2 separate regions of the Homo sapiens genome follow, and region 2 is linked to region 1. Evidence: fine-mapped expression QTL. Tissue or cell type: putamen. Region 1 holds a variant in brackets; the other region holds the start of a gene. All regions are shown on one strand. Distances are between the middles of the regions.

Region 1 (8,103 bases):
CAGCTAGGAAAGGCTCAAAGGTCTGTGCCCCACTCCACCTTACAATTGACTCTGCCCTGCCCTGCCCCCTGAGCCCCACCTCGGCCTGACTCCTCACCCTCACCACCCAACTCCAGGAAGGCCACTGCTCCTGTGACCACTTTCCCGGTGGATTCCAGGGATGTCAGATGGGTTCTCAGCCCTAGGCCTGGCCCTGTAGCCCAGCCTATGCCCAGCGTCTCTGCAGGGCCTAGCACAGACCCTGACTCAGGGTGGGTGCTCAGTAAATGAAGGAAGGGGGGAGAAACAGAGACAGAGTGAAGGAGGGACGGGTGTTGACAGAGAGAAGGAAGCACAGGCATAGCTAACTCTGCCGGTGAAGGAATTGCCTCTTACCTCTTTCCCCTTTCTCTCCAGATCCAGGAGGCCCTGCCTCACCACGAGGTCCCATGGGGCCTTCTCGCCCTCTCTGGCCCATGGGGCCTTCCATGCCAGGATCTCCTAAAGACAGGGATGGCCAGCCTCCAAGTCAGGATCCCGTACCCCAGCTAACGGCTCCACAGGCAGCCTCCCACGGCAGACGCTTGCCTGGAGCCCTTCCCTGGCCTCCCTGCTTGCTTCTCTCCTGGACCCCATAGCCTTGGCTCAACCTGGAAGCCAGAGTGACCCTTTGAAAATGTGAGTAGATCATGTTCTACCTCTGCCCCAAACCTGCACATGGCTTCTCAACTCACCCAGAGTCAAAGCCAAAGTCCTTACACTGGCCTCTGAGGCCCCACACAGCCTGCCTCCTCTCGGCCCATCCCTTTGGACTTTCCAGCTCAGAGGTCTTCCCCTTCCTGATGCTCCTTAAAAATTGCCCTGGGGCCTGAGCCTTGGCCTTGGCTGCTCCCTCTGCCTGGAATGTTTTCCCTAGATCTCTCCTGCTTGGCTCCTTCTTGCCCTTCGAATCTTTGCTCAAATGGTGGCCTCTCAGGGAGGCCTTCCCTGGCTTCCCTGTGTAAAATTACTCTCCCCAGCTCTCATTCCCAAAATCCCTCCAGGCTCTCCTTTCCCATGTCGTGCATCACCCGTAAACTGCTATAGACTTCACTATTTCTCACAGTTACTGTCTTTCTCCCAAACCCAAATCTCAGCTCCACAACAGCAGGGTTTCTCTGTTTGGTTCACTGGTGTCTCTCCAGAGCCTAAAACAAGGCCTCACATACAGCAGGCACTTAATGAATGTTTATTAAATGAATGAAAGAATGAGGAATAAATGAATAAAGAAAAATGTGTTTCTTACCCACGCTGCCTTTTTGACCCTTTGGTCCTTGTGGACCTGGGTGGCCCAAGGGCCCAGGGATACCTGTGAACACACAAGGATATCTCAGCCCCTGTTTTCCTCCCAGAAGCCATCAGCTAGGATTGAGCAGCTGCAACACTGGCAGGCCTGGAGGTCATCAGAGAGTACATACCTGGAGTCCCAGGGAACCCTCGATCTCCTGCAGGAACAAAGGCAAAAGAGAGAGTGGTCAGCCAGAAGACTGTGCCCAATTCCCAAAGCAGTCACTAGTGGGATTCAGGTAGGGTTGCCAAACTTAGGAAATAAAAATGCAGATGTCCAGTTACATTTGAATTGCAGATAAACAACACATAGTTTTAGTTATAAGTATGTCCCATGAAATATTTGGGACAAGTTATAGTGAAAAATTATTTGTTGTTTATCTTCAAAGTTAACTGGGAGTCCTGTATTTTATCTGACAACTGCAGGTTCAGGTACTCTGGCAGTATCAGTCCCCACCACTAACATGGTCAGGAGGGGTGTGCGGGCTGGAGACTTGGGGAAGGAGGGCTGGGACAATGACCCAGGTATATGCGAGGGTGTGGGTGGCAAGGATCTGAAGGGAAAGAAGAGACTCGAGGGCCCCAAAGTGGAGGAGCTGACTTCCTGCCCTGGGGTTGCCTAGGGAGTGAGGAGGGAGCTGGAGAGAGGTGGGATCCTGTCATCTTGAACGTGGTGCTCAGTATTCTTCTGGCTGCAGAATCACCGTGGATGACTAAGATAAAGACTCCTGCCCACATGCATACCCCCTGAGTCAAAGGCTCGGGAAATGTGGCCCAAACTCTTTTGGAGATTCCTGTGCACAGGGAAGCTCGCCAATCCCGGTCAGCTGGACCAAGGAAAACTGCTCTGTGTCCAGCCAAAGGTCCCTGGGATTGGAAACCTCTCCTCCTCACACACCTGTCCCATCTGTTGTCAAATTACTTCTTGGAGTGCAAGGTGGGTTTTCTGACACTTGCTGATTGTTTGAAACAATTAACACTTGCTAATATTTAAGGTAAAAATGCCCATGTTATAATTACCTTTAGGGCCTGGACTTCCCATGTCACCTGAAACCAGAAAGATATGAAAACTGTGAGATGGGGCAAGAACCCAAAGGCCATACTCTGCCTTGTATTTTAAAACCATTTGACAAGATGTAAACTGTATTTCAAGGTGAGGCGACATGCGGCGAGTCCCTCCCAGTCCCAGAGTCTATGTCATTTGGGCTCATTGCTGGGCTTCTCTTAGATGCTGCCTTATCTAAGATATTCTGACTCTAAAACCAACAGATACCTCCCAACAGATACCATAAGATCATTCAGCTCTTCATCCTTCCATTTAGAACAAAGAAAAAGGCTTCTAATCTACCCAGAAAACTCACTTCCAACTGCAGGAAATGAATCAGAGACAAGGTTCAATCCATGGCAATACCTTTAGGGCCAGGGCTTCCTCGGAGATTTCCTGCAAGAAAAAGCAAATCCTGAGTCAGCTTCACATCTCCTGTCACACACACACACACACACACACACACACACACACACAATAAGGGGATCATGGTATGGGAAGAAGAAACTGAGGCAAAGACTAGAGATCAGATTCTAAATTTGGCTAGTCCAGTGATCTTGAGCAATTATTCTTTCCAGAACTCAGTTTTTCCAGGAGTAAAGTGGGACCACAGTCTTGGTCCCACCTACCTCTCAGCGCTATTGAGAGGATCAGGGGAGGAGAGAGGCCGAGAGTGGGCCGGATGATGGTGCTCACAGCACATGCACACATACCACATAGATGCAAAGAAGAAAGGGACTCAGGGGAGCTGGCCCTGTGCCCGGCGATGCTCTCACCATTTTCCTGTTCCATCATTAGCTTCTTCCTCACGAACATCCAGAGCTCCTCCTGGCTGTCACTGTGCAGCCCAATTTTGTCCAGGTCTGCTCCCGCCGCGGGTGCCATGCCCTGGAGGCGGTCCTTTTCTATTCTATCCATGCTGTCCCCATAGGGCAGTATGCTCCTCCTGATCCTCTCCAGCTCATCCACACGCGCCTTCAGCTTCCTCACCTCCTCCGCTGCAACAAACAGACACACACTGCGTCACTGAGGGCCCGGTCCTTCGCCTTCCATACACTCGCTCCTAGTGGAGAGCCTGACACAAGGGATTGGGGCCTGTGGTGGCTTCTTCATGCTAGAATACTCATGCAGAGATAATCTGCCGTGGCCACCAGCAGGATTAGCTGCTCAGCATCACAGCAGAGCCTTAAAGAAACCTGGCCTGGGAGTCAGTCTTCTCATCTGAGCTGGGTGACAAAGCTTGTCCTCACTCTCCCTGTGAGGTGGTGTGAGAGCTGATAGAAATAGATATGGCTGGCCAGGCGCGGTGGCTCAAGCCTGTAATCCCAGCACTTTGGGAGGCCAAGGGGGGCAGATCACGGGGTCAGGAAATCGAGACCATCCTGGCTAACACAGTGAAACCCCATCTCTACTAAAAATACAAAAAATTAGCCAGGTGTGGTGACATGCGCCTGTAGTCCCAGCTACTCAGGAGGCTGAGGCAGGAGAATCGCTTGAACTCAGGAGGCGGAGGTTGCAGTGAGCCGAGATTGCACCACTGCACTCCAGCCTGGGCGACAGAACGAGACGCCGTCTCAAAAAAAAAAAAGAAAGAAAAAGAAAAGAAAGAAAAGAAATAGATATGGCTGCTTGGAAACAGCAAAAGTCAAAAAGGCTAAGAAAGTCCTGACCTTGTTACCAAGGGCAGCCAGGTGCTTAGACCAGGGCCTACAGGTGTAGCAAGGGTGGGGCTGAGCATCAGGCGCTGCATCCAAATTCAGCTCCACCACTAAGTGGCAGCATGTCCTTGGCCAGGTACCTCCTGGGGCCTCAGTTTACTCATCTGCGGTAACAAGGGTCTGCACCAATGCATTCAGGTCCCCTCGCCCCCTAACACGTGGGCCCATTCACAGATTCCTGCCCTTCTGACAGGCAGTGGGGCTGGCCTGCCTCCTACCACACAGGCTGCCCTGCTGCCTTTGCCACGTACCCAGAGCAATGAGGCCGAAGAGCAGCCCCAGGAGTAGCAGCCAGGTGAGCAGCAGGCCCAGCAGCCACTTCCACCAGCTGCAGCAGGAGCCGCAGGGGCACCAGGCTGGCGCTGGTCCCCAAGGGCCGCCGCCAGCGCCACCAACACCGCCACCTCCTCCACTGCCACCACCACCACTGCTGCCGTAGCTGTGGATATCTGTGAAAGAGACAGGGAAAATGAAGCAAATGCAGGCAGCTCCTGCCTTTTCCCTCCAGATTCTCTGACTTTTGGTGACTTTCTGGCCTGAGTGACTACGACTGGGGGCTTT[C/T]AAGTTCCTGTGCTGTTCCACCCAGGACAGGGCTGGCTCCTGGACTGAGCACAGGGCCTGACTGGTGCTGACCAGAAGTCTGGCAATCCTGGCTCCAGCTGTGTGAACCTGAGAAGGTCACTTCACCTTTGTTTCCGTTTTTATAACATGGGGTTAAAAGATTGCCTCCTTCTTGGGAAGGTTGTTGAATGAAATAGGACAAGGAATGTAAAATAGTAGAGGAGTTAGCAGCACAGCACGAGGCTTAAACATCTTTATTTTGAATATAGCATTGGTCTGCATCTGACTGGGCCCAAACCTAGAGCGTTCCCATCTCCATGCCTCAGTTCACACAGTGCTTTCTTTAATCCTTACAGTGCCTAGAATTATACTCAGCTCTTCAGGGGTGCCTAGTGAATTAAAACAATGTTTTTTGTAATGAAAAGTGTTTTTAGTTCCCTAAAATGGGGTGGTAGGACTTGACCTGCTTCTATCACACGGCGGTGGAAGGAAATGAGGAAAGGCTAAGGGGCTGGAGGCGTGCATGGCTTAGTCTCTTCTTGAGCTGCTGTGTAAAGACACAGTCACCCTGTTGTGTTAGGAGACAACCTAACTAACAAGTGTTAATTAGGGGCAGCTGGGGGCGGGGGGCCTGTTAGCTTCATCCCCTGAGCTAAGCTCCTTCTGCGGCCACCTCTGACCCACAGCCTGCCACTCCCCTGACCCCCACCCTGCTCCCTTCTGAGCCTTTAGGGAAACTCTTTAGAGTCTGGTGGCTTCTGTGCACTGCACTGCTTCCAGGCGAGGGACCATCATCTGGTCCATTAGCCATAAGCAGCCCCACTGGATCCTGTCACTGCAGGGTTCGCGGTTCTCACCCACCTGCAGTGGTGGTCTTGCCCTTTGTGGACACAGTCTTCAGGTCTCCTGAAAGGACAAACAGATTGACCTGAGCTTTTAAACTGGAGGAGCTAGCTGCTCTGCCTATGGAGTAGCCATTTTTTTATTCCTTTACTTTCTTAATAAACTTGCTTTCAACGACGTGCAGGAACATCCAGCATCTCAGTCCTCACTAATCTGATATTTGCGATAATTACATCCATGAAGACATGGCTTGGCAAACAATTAATGGTGGAAGAAAGCACTATGTTTTAATTCTCTTATGACCTTAAACCTTAACACCTCAAAACATTTTTGGAACACCAAGTTATGGGTGCCGCTTGCATTCAAACAATAAGTGTGGTTGTGAGAAATGACTCTGATTTCTTGGTTAAGGGACTCTGAACACAAGTTCCTGACCTGGGGTGGAAGGAATTGGGAATGAGAAGGATGAGCTTGGAGGAGGATTGTTCCTGAGTCCGTGATGCTATTTGAAAGTTGAGTGTTTAGGCCAGGCACGGTGACTCACGCCTGTAATCCCAGGACTTTGGGAGGCCGAGGCGGGCAGATCACGAGGTCAGGAGTTCGAGACCAGCCTGGCCAACATGGTGAAACCCCGTCTGTACTAAAAATACAAAAAAATTAGCTGGATGTGGTGGCACATGACTGTAGTCCCAGCTACTTGGGAGGCTGAGGCAGGAGAATCATTTGAACCCGGGAGGCAGAAGTTGCAGTGAGCTGAGACCATGCCACTGCACTCCAGCCTGGGCAACAGAGCAAGACTCCGTCTCAAAAAAAAAAAAACAAAAAAAGAAAAAGAAAGTTGAGTGTTTGTGGGCATGTGTAGAATTTACTCGGCAATTTGTTCATACCTTTCATCAGATTCTGAAAAGGATCTTTTGACTCCACAGCCCTAGACCTACCCCTAAAATGTCAGGAACTGCTAACTTTAAAGACTTACAGTCAGGTTCCAATCTCTCACCTTGTTAAAGTGATAACTGATTTGATTGGCATTCATTTGAAAATGTTCTATGACTTAACATTTTCCTTCCTTTACTGACCTCCCTGAAATCAGTGATTTGGAGAGATTCCTATAGGGCATCGTCAAGAAATGTGGTTATCAGACAAAGAACGCAGATATTTGGGAAGAAAAAAAAATAAAGCTAACAACTGCTTTGCAAAGCATTTTTCTATTAGTTCTGAAGATTATGGAGAAAAAGTAAAATGAGAAAACAAATGCCTTCGTAGACATGGCAGAGGCAGGCTTTTGCTTCAGTAATGCAAATGCAAATCACCTAGGAAGCTTGTTGAACTGCAGCTTCTGACTCAGCAGATCTGAGCTAGGGCTGGGATCCTGCTTTTATAACACACTCCCAGGTGTGGCTGATGCTGCTGGCCCGTGGACCACACTTTGAGTAGCAAGGTCTCCGAAGACAATGAAATGAAATGTGGCCTGGCTGAAGTCAAGGTGGACAACAATCATATTTGTTCTTACCATTAGCTTCGGCTTTTAGGCCTGAGTCAGCATTGTAGGCAGCTTGCTTTTCTTTTTTTAGGGTGTCTTCTGAAAAAGAAGCTATGTACAGAACCCATTATAACCTGGCATATTCTCTTCTCAACCTCTCAACTCTGTCCTGTGTTCCCCCCGCCCTTGCCCACTACCCTGCTTGGGAAGGTCTAGGTTAGACTGGTAAGAAGAGCCCCTCTTTCCTGGGGTTCATCTCCCCTGATCTGTGTTTGCGGTTAGACTTGCTGTCGCCCAAATGCCTCTCTGAGAGCTCTTTGCCTGAATTTTCTCAGCTCATCTGCATTCAAGGCAGACCCTGGAACATACTATTCAGACAGGTGCTTTTCATTAGAATGGGATGGCTATGGTTTCATGACTCATAGGGTCCCAAACCACCTTGCTAGGACATTTGGTCTCCTACACTATTTGGCTTTCTTCTGAAACCCAAGCCACACAGGATCTGACGCACTTGCAGCGATGCTGGCAGGGGAGGCTGTAAAGACCTTCCCGCTGTCCTTGGTCATGATGAGCAGCTCCATCTCCTTCTTGGCAGGTGTGTTGTCTTTCTCTAGGATCAGGAACTTGCAGTCCTTGTGCAAAAGGTCATCGCTCTGCACACTTGTGGTGCAGGCTGGGGAGAAAGAAAATGGGTAAGAAGGAAGGACATGTGCCAGGAGAAGGGAGAGGGGAGAAAAGACAAGAAGAGGAAGGAGAAGAAAGAGAAGGAGGAGGGAGGTAAATTAGCAGGTGTGTATGAGGGTCTCTTGTTCTTGCTGACAGTGGTTACTATGAAGCATCTTGGGGACCAAGGACACCCTCTATGCCTGGCTGGGCCTGGCCACCAAGAGTTTGGGTCAATGTCAGAAGCTCTGGATGGCTGGTTTATGGGGGCTGCCTCCCCTCCTGGAGATTATAGGATCTTTATTGAATGGGTAAAAGTCCCCCAGTCAGGTAAGTCCTTCCTTAACTAACTTGGGTTCATTTTTATCCTCCAGGTCTTAAGAGTTGCCTTCTTGAGGAGGCTTTAGCTGACTACCCCATCTAAAGCACTTCACCCTCATACACACACTCCTATCTCTACCACATTACTTATTGCTTTCCTTATAATC
Region 2 (8,103 bases), 270 kb after region 1:
TCCAAAATAAACCTTAAAAACCAGTTCATGCCATGATGGGAAGGAGGAGCCGACAAACCCCATTATACCCTCCTCCCTCTGGAATTCAGGCACAACTGAACAGCATTAACGTTAAAACAGAGATCCTAGGAGTGACAAAACAGACTCTGTAGCAATAAGATACCGAATTTCAACCCAATATAGCATCATATGAGATAGCAGGCCCTGAAAGAAATCAAAGTATTTTACCCCAAAATATATTTCTTTGACATATTTTGAAATGGCCCTGCAAAGCTGCCTATTGTCAGGAAAATCTACATTCTGTACAGAATCTCCTTCCCTTTCCAGGTCTCTCCTGATCCAGGAGAGATGAACTAAGAGTCTGATCTACATTCTGTACAGAATTTCCTTCCCTTTCCAGGCCTCTTCCTGATCCAGGAGAGATGAACTAAGGGTCTGGCACCTTTTTAGGTTTGACAGACACTTACCATCTCCTGTCTCTGAAACTCGCTTCCTGGGACTTCAGCTACATAGTAAGAACCATGGTCTCCATACCCCTTATCCTAGACACTCCTTTCTACTGATTCCAGGTCTTTAGATAATAACTTAACTCGTTCAACCAATTGCCAGTCAGAAAATCTTTGAATCCACCTATGACCAGGAAGCCACTCCTTGCCCTCACTTCAAGTTGTCCCATCTTTCCACACCAAACTAACATATTCCTTACACATGCATTGATGGAGGTCTGCCTGTAATTTTTTTTTTTTTTTTTTTTGAGACTAAGTCTCACTCTGTCGCCTGGGCTAGAGTGCAGTGGAGGGATCTCAGCTTACTGCAACCTCTGCCTCCCAGGTTCAAGCAATTCTCCTGCCTCAGCCTCCTGAGTAGCTGGGACTACAGGCATGCCCCACCATGCCCGGCTAATTTTTATATTTCTAGTAGAGACAGGTTTTCACCATGTTGGCCAGGCTGGTCTCGAACTCCTGACCTCAAGTGATCTGCCTGGGATCACAAGTGCTGGGATTACAGGTGTGAGCACCTGGCCTGCCTGTAACTTCTGTCCCCCTAAAATGTGTAACATCAAGCTGTAACCCAACTGTCTGGGGCACATATTTTCAGGATCTCTTGGGACTGTGCCTCAGGCCTTGGTCATTCAGATGGGTTCAGAATAAATCCCTTCAAATATTGTATAGAGTTGACTTGTCCACAAAAGGGAAGGAAACAGGGCATTCTGACATTCTGAGACAGGACGGGTAGTGAGGAGCCTCTCACAAACCATGGATATGTGTATATGTGTGCATGTTCTTGCACATACCAGCACATGCCTCCCCAAAGAGTCCCCTACTCCCAATTCCAAGGATGTCCACCTCTGCCTTGGCCCAAAGTTCTCACCTCTACCAGGCTCTCCCGCACCTGTGGTCTGAGACATCAGCTGGTGGGTTTGGCTTTGAGAATAAACCTGGGTCACTTGGCGGGCTTTTTTCTGTCTGCTTGCCAGGAAGCCTGCTGAATTCCTCTCCACCTCTGCCCTTGTCCACAGAGAGGGGCGGCCCATGCAGTTCACAGCTAAACTTAGCCTGGCAACGCTGGAGTCACGGGGCAACAGGGGCTGAGGGAAGATGGAAGCTTCTGGGTGGCCCGGACAGAGGGCTGCAGGTGGCTGGCTGGGACCAGTGGTTTATTCAGACCTTTACTGTGAGGCTGGCCGGAAGCCAAGACCCTGGGAGAAATCCAAGGCTTCCTTCCTTCACTGGGGTCCCTCACTCCTGGGTCCCCCAGAGCCTGCAGCACTCCCCACCATAGCTTAATCCAATAAACACCACAAAGCATTGCCTAACACCCATAGCTCTCCCATTTCTCGAGCCCTCACTAGGATGTGCTGGGCACTGCACACACTAACCACTGTAAGTTTCTTTTCTTTTCTTTTTTTTTTTTTTTTTTGACCACTGTAACTTTCTAAGAGGTGGGTGCCATCCCTGTTTTGCAGATGGGTTAACCAAAGTCCAAGAGGCTAAGTCATTTTCTAGCCACAGGACTAGAAAAGCCATAGCTGGGCTGAGATTCAAGCTCATTCTGTCTGTCTTTGCCAGCAAAGCTCAAGTTTTTCCACTGTGCTACATGTACGGAGCACATACTGAGCTCGAGGAACATGATGGATGCTTCAGGGCCTGCAGTGATGAGTATGGCCTGACCCCTGGTAGCAAAAGCATTACAATCCACGCGGGAAGGTAGACAGCCACTACGTATGGAGTCCCCAGACAGAATGAGATGTGGGGCATAAAAGGCACGTGAGCTACAGGCTGCAAAATGCAGAGGAGGGAGGGAGCTTCCTTCCTGTTCTCTGAAGGCCTCTCCCTGTCTGGAGCTCTCCCTGCCCTCACCTGTTGGGGAGATGTCAGTGTGCAACTCCTTGGCTCCACCTTCACCTCCTCCTCTCCTTCCAGACAGAATTACTACAACCAACCAGGAACAGTAGGAGCATGTGTCCGGCCCCACAACCTGTTCATCACACCGCTTTTGCCCCACTGCCCATCTACTCCCACTGAGGGTTGACTGACCACAGCCTTAAGCAGCAGGGGTGCCCAGGACCCATTTCTTGGCCACCTGGTATTCCCTCTGGGACAGTGGTTCTCAACGTGCTTAGCAGCAACAGTGCCACCTGGCAACTTGTTACAAATGCAAATTTTCACAGGCAACCTGAAACCCGCTGATCAGAAATGCCAGGGCTGGGCCCAGTATCTGTGTCTCAACAAGCCCTCTAGGTCATTCTAATGCCCGCTTATGTCTGAGAACCATCCCTTCCCAAACCAGGCGTCCTCTGGGTAGGAGGGTGGGGCTCCTGCAGTGTCACAGCAGCCCACATCCTGGAAATTGCCAAGGGCTTGCCCAGCACACAGCCTGACAGATGCAATTAGCTCTGCTAATTACAACAGCAAAAGAAGGCCTGGCCCTGGCGTCACGTTCAGAGCCAAAAGGAGTAGCTGATAGGTTTCCTTTACGAAATGGAATAAAGGACTGGCTGAGGGCAGGGGAGGGCACTTTTAGCCGAGGCCTTGGGGGTGACTTGGGTCCCTTTCACTAGGTTCTGGGTCCTCCAAGAAAGAAGGAGCCAAGGGAGGCCCAAACTGCCATGAGTTTGGGCTGAACTCCTTCTGTATCCTGGCCTTGTGCTGCAGTTTCTCAGCCCCAGCTGATGAGGTACACAGTTGTTGGGGGGAAATCAAGCCAAATATTTAAGAAAGTCAGAATATAGAGTTGAATTTAGGTTTCTTTATTTTACAGAGGTAGAAACCGAGGCCTCAAGAGAAGACATGCTAGGCCTGGAGGGTGGGTGGAGTAGAAGAGGCAGGCTGGGTATCATCCCGTGGACCCTCCCAGGGAGCACCTGGCAGTGATTCCAGCACAGAACAGGGGAAGGGTGGTGAAAGGTGAAGATGTTTACATGACCAGCCATTTAGGAAGCAGGTACCCCATACTAGGCAGGATGCTAAGTACTCTGCATATGTTTTGTCATTTAATTGTCACAACCTCATTTAGGTAGTTGCATTAAAACTCTCTTACAGATGAAGAAGACTGATGTTCTGGGAAGGTCACTGGGTGGCCTCTAGGATTCCTGAGTCTGCAGTGCATGGCTGAATGTGAGCAGCACCTAGGCTGAGTCTGCCCCTCCCTCTGGTCTCCTTCCAACCCCTCAAGGGACTGATGGAAAACTGAGTGGGTCCTGCCTCTTCCCCTGCCTGGGGGTACCTCTGCAGCATCATTGTCAGTGGTGACCACCAAAATTATCCAGGTTGGCTGTCTCCCGAGCTTCCCAGGCCTTAGAAAAACAGGACTTTGAGAAAGGAGCATGAGTTCTACCCTGAGTCTTGGTTTTAGAGTTTGGAACTCATGGGCGGGCGGTCTGAGCCATCGTGAAACCCTCCTCCCATGGCCCAGCCTACTTGTCTCACCCTCAATTCCATGCTTCTCTCTAGCAGGGCTCACGCCCCATGCTGCAGTGACACCAGCTTCCCATAGCACAAGGCCAGCTCAGGGCCCTTCTCCAGGCACCTGCCCCTGGATCTGGCCTATCTCACCCTTCCTGGAACTCCTGCAGGTCAGGCCACCTTCCTGCTCTTTACTGTGTCACCCACCGGTCCCTGCCTTCCTACCTACAGTTCCAGCATGGTCAAGAAGCTGAATGTTCTCCTGCAGCCCCCAGGGTACCACGCACGGGGCTGGGCACACTGCAGGCTCCCAACATGTAAGTAGGAGTTGACTTATTGCACATTGGGAGGAGGTGGCTGGTGGCAGATAGAGCTGGGGAGTGACATGTCTCCACCAACTCCCTCCTTGTTGCCTAACTCAGGACAGAGGACACAGCACAAATGGCTCAGTAACAATGGCTCTGAATGTGTCACTGCTCAGCCTGATTGGCTCCCATCCTTCCAGGACAGTGGGACAGGAGAAGGGCTTTGCTCCAGCAAGTGCAAGGTCTCAGAGCTGCTCCCACCAGGGCATCTCTGGCTGGGTCCCTCTTCACTTGCACTCCAAATGGGGACAGGAGAGGGAATATAGAGGGGCAGGTGAGCAGACTGGGGCCGGAGGCTGGGCCCTGAAAGGGGAGGGAGGGACAGGCAAAGAAAGGAAGTGAGGAAAGAGGAAGGAAGAGGACCAACAAAAAGATCATTGAGAAAGTAGGTGGAAAGGGTGCGTTTGCGGCTCTGGGCTTGCCGCACTTCCTTTTCTTCTCGGCGTCCTTGCAGCCCTGACCCCGTCCAGTCATCTGCCCCCTCTCCCACTGGGCAGGACCATCATGTTGGCCAACCCACCTCCCCCAGACCTGCCACCCTGTGGCCACTGGGCTCCTTCCCTTCCTCTCTCCAGACACCTGTCTCGAGGACCCGGGTTGTAAAATCAAGTGTCTGGGAGGGCCAGCCCGCAGGGAAAATGAGCGGGGCTGCAGTGGACAGCTGAGAGGAGGGGACACTGGTCGACTGGATGGCACATGCTTCGTCTGAAGGGGCGAGTCCCCACGCCACACATTCTGTGCACCCAGAATGACAAGATCTTTTTTTTCCCAAAGAAAAGCCACTAATCTGGACTTTGTCAAAATCCCCCCATTTTTAAATGTTAGCTGCTATTTCAAAAATTCCTTAAAAACCATGTGAGCAACACTGGGTGCAGTGGCTCACACCTATAATTCCCAGCACTTTGGAAGGCTGAGGCAGATGGATCGCCTGAGCTCAGGAGTTCGAGACCAGCCTTGGCAACATGGCGAAGCCCCGTCTCTACCAAAAATATAAAAAAACTAGCTGGGCGTGGTGGCACATGCCTGTGGTCCCAGCTACTCAGGAGGCTTAGGTGTGAGGATTGCTTGAGCCCGGGAGGCGGAGGTCACAGTGAGCTGAAATGGCGCCACTGCACTCCAACTTGGGTGATACAGTGAGACCTCGTCTTGAAAAGAAAAGAAAATGAAATAAAATATGTTAGTGGCCACCCAGAGCCTGTGGGCTCTGGTCTGCAACCCCCCATGAAGCGTTCCTCAAGGTAACCCCTAACCCAGGACTCTCCTTACTCCTACCCCATCAGCAACTACTCAGCAAACCCACTATTTCCTCTGAGTCCATGACTCCCTGAAATACTGGCTCCACCTTTCTCCCCAAACCTAGGCCTGATTACTCCCGTGTCTCCTCGTTGGCCCCAGCAGCCACATTCGGAATAATCCTAACCAGCACTTATGAGGGCTGACTCTGTGCCAGCCCTTGTAGGAACTTAGTGTAAATGCCAGAGCAGATTTTCTTCCTTCCCCATGGCCTCTGCAAGGACTAGAAGAAAAGAGAGAAGAGGCTTTGTTGGGTTGGCATCCTGGTGACTTTTTTTAAGTCCCTCCCTCTTCCTAGAATGGGCCTTGAGGACACTTAATGCTTCGAGTGGGTGGAACCGGGCACCCCGAGTCCAGCCAGCGTGTGCACACGCGGACAGCAGAGGCTCGCCTAAGCAAAAAGGCCTAATGGTGCTGCGCTAAGAAGCGCTTGGTATTAGAGTAAGGCCTGTGGGCCCCAGGAGCCCCAACTGTCCCTCCCTAACCCAGGGGAGAGCCCAGACTGACTGAGTGGGATGCTGGGCTCAGAAGCACCCAGGGGTCAGTCTGGACTCTGGTGAGGTGGGGCAGCAGGACAGACAGCAGAGAGGGGAGAGCTCCACCCCAGTGCCCACCTGAGGTGGCCCTACCACCGAGCCGGTGGGGAAGTACACGCGGGGCAGAAGCTGCCTTTTTTTGCTCCAGCGAGCCTCTGTTGTCTGCATGTGGACACTCTGGCCGGACTCACAGGAGGTGCTGCTCACACCCGTCCAAAGCATTAAGTGCTCTCAAGGCCCACTCTCGGGAGAGGGAGCGGTTTCAAGAAGTCACCAGAATGCCAACTCTGTTCTCAGGACTGGGTCATGGGGGTGGTCTGCCAGCCAGCAGAGGCACAGGAAGGACAGAGGGCTGGACTCTGCTGGCTCTGGGTGGGTGAGCCACATCCTTCCTGTTCCCGCTCCTCCGCCGGCTGATGCACGTCCCTCGGCGAGCAGATGGAGAAGGCAGGGAAGCCATCCTCTCCCAGGAAGGACAGAGTGTCCCTCCGTCCAGCCACTCTGCCTGCCTCCTCCAGCAGGACATCATAGAAATCACAGCATCTTGGGACAGACAGACAAACGCCTGATCTCTATGGCTGGGTTGTGGAGAGGACAGTGAGAAGAGACTACAAGGAGTAAAACAGTAGCAGAGACAAGGAGGGGGCTCCCCTGCAACCCCTGAGCTCTGGCCCACACCTCCTTTTCTCCCACGCGTTCCCTCCAGGGCATCTCAGATCCATTCAACTGTGTGGGTTGAATGGCAGCCCTCAAAATATACGTCCTCGCGCTAATCCCCAGCCCCTATGAATGGGACCTAAAAGGGTCTTTGCAGATGTGATTAAATTAAAGAACTTGAGATGAGATCATCCTGGATTACCCGGGTGGGCCTTAAATCCAATGACAAGTATCCTTATGAAGTGACACAAAAGAGAGAGACAGAGGAGAGGTGAGGGGAGACGGAGGCCAGGATGGGAGTGACGCTGCCACAGCTGAGCATCATCTGAGACAACAGGAGCTGGAAGAGGCAAAGAGGGACTCTCCTCTAGAGTATCTGGAGGGAGTGTGGCCCTGATACCTTGATCCTGGTCTCCAGAACTGTGAAAATAAATGCCCACTGTCTTAAGCCCTCCTGGTGTGTGGCAACTTGTTATGGCCACCCCAGGAGACTACTGCAGTCTCAAAGCGCAATGCACCCTCCTCTCTCCCAGCCAGCTCCCCTCGCTGACCTTCCTCTTGTTGGGGTATCTCCAGTCTCCCCAGCCACCTCTGACCTGGCCTTTGCTCTGCACCGAAGCCTGGGGATTCCACGTGAGATGGAATCTCTCTCGTGTGCTGGCCAGCGTAGGCCTTTGGGGTCAGCTCATCTGAGCTCTCCCTAACACTCCAAACCCCCAGTTAGCTCCCCAACCCTGCACGTCTCCCCTCCCCATTTCAAGGGAGTCTTGTTTCCATGGGACACAAGTCAGCGCTTTAAGAATGTTCAAGGCCTGGCCCAACCAGCCTCAGAGGACCTCTTGGTTCCCTCTCTGCCTGGCCCGGCCACTTCAGATCATCTCCTGTCCCCCAGATAGCTCCTGCACCTCCCCACCATTCCTGGAAACATCCATGCTTCACCCCTCTGCTGGCCAAAACCCTACCCAACTGACCTCACAGCAAGCCCATCTCAGACTCCACCTCCAAGGAGCCTTCCAGGATCCCAAGACAAATCCCTCTTTCTTCCAAGGGATAGGAGAACAGGGGAGGGAGAGGGACATATGAATTAGGCCCCACTGAGTGCACCAGGTACCTCATGTAGGTCAGGTGGCTCTGTAGATGCACCGGCACACAGCAGGCACCCAACTGAGGCTGGTCCCATGTGTCTCTATCCTTGAATTATTGCATTTAACCCACGCAGCAACCCCGGGGGAGGGGGCCATCAGCCTCATGTCCCTGGCAGGAGCCCAAGGTGCTGAGAGGTGGGGCAATGTGCTCAAGGTCACACAACAGCCTGGCTCCAGGCCCCGTGTCGCCCTGGTGTGCCCG

Evidence for each region. PIP is the estimated chance that this variant, and not a neighbour inherited with it, causes the effect. A credible set is the group of variants that fine-mapping cannot tell apart.
Region 2: ITPRIP-AS1 starts here. The variant in region 1 is the best candidate, but not a certain one, in a credible set for the expression of ITPRIP-AS1 in putamen (GTEx, PIP 0.73).

What each region holds. Positions count from the first base shown.
Region 1 is chr10:104,052,656-104,060,758 of GRCh38, forward strand. It overlaps COL17A1 (collagen type XVII alpha 1 chain), which reads right to left. Exons shown (of 56, transcript NM_000494.4): 14 at 7,464-7,625; 15 at 6,983-7,063; 16 at 5,491-5,535; 17 at 4,320-4,517; 18 at 3,127-3,348; 19 at 2,717-2,746; 20 at 2,326-2,352; 21 at 1,437-1,463; 22 at 1,265-1,327; 23 at 376-480. Among named protein-coding and RNA genes, the nearest start is that of MIR936, 8.5 kb to the left of the region's middle. RefSeq lists enhancers at 427-1,013, 1,326-2,525. The variant C/T (reference allele first, on the strand shown) is at 4,630.
Region 2 is chr10:104,319,802-104,327,904 of GRCh38, forward strand. ITPRIP-AS1 (ITPRIP antisense RNA 1) reads left to right here and starts at 3,563. Exons shown (of 3, transcript NR_120622.1): 1 at 3,563-3,769; 2 at 4,137-4,222; 3 at 6,538-6,944. The region is part of intron 1 of ITPRIP (inositol 1,4,5-trisphosphate receptor interacting protein); the gene reads right to left. RefSeq lists enhancers at 3,919-4,649, 4,650-5,378, 7,168-7,813, 7,814-8,103.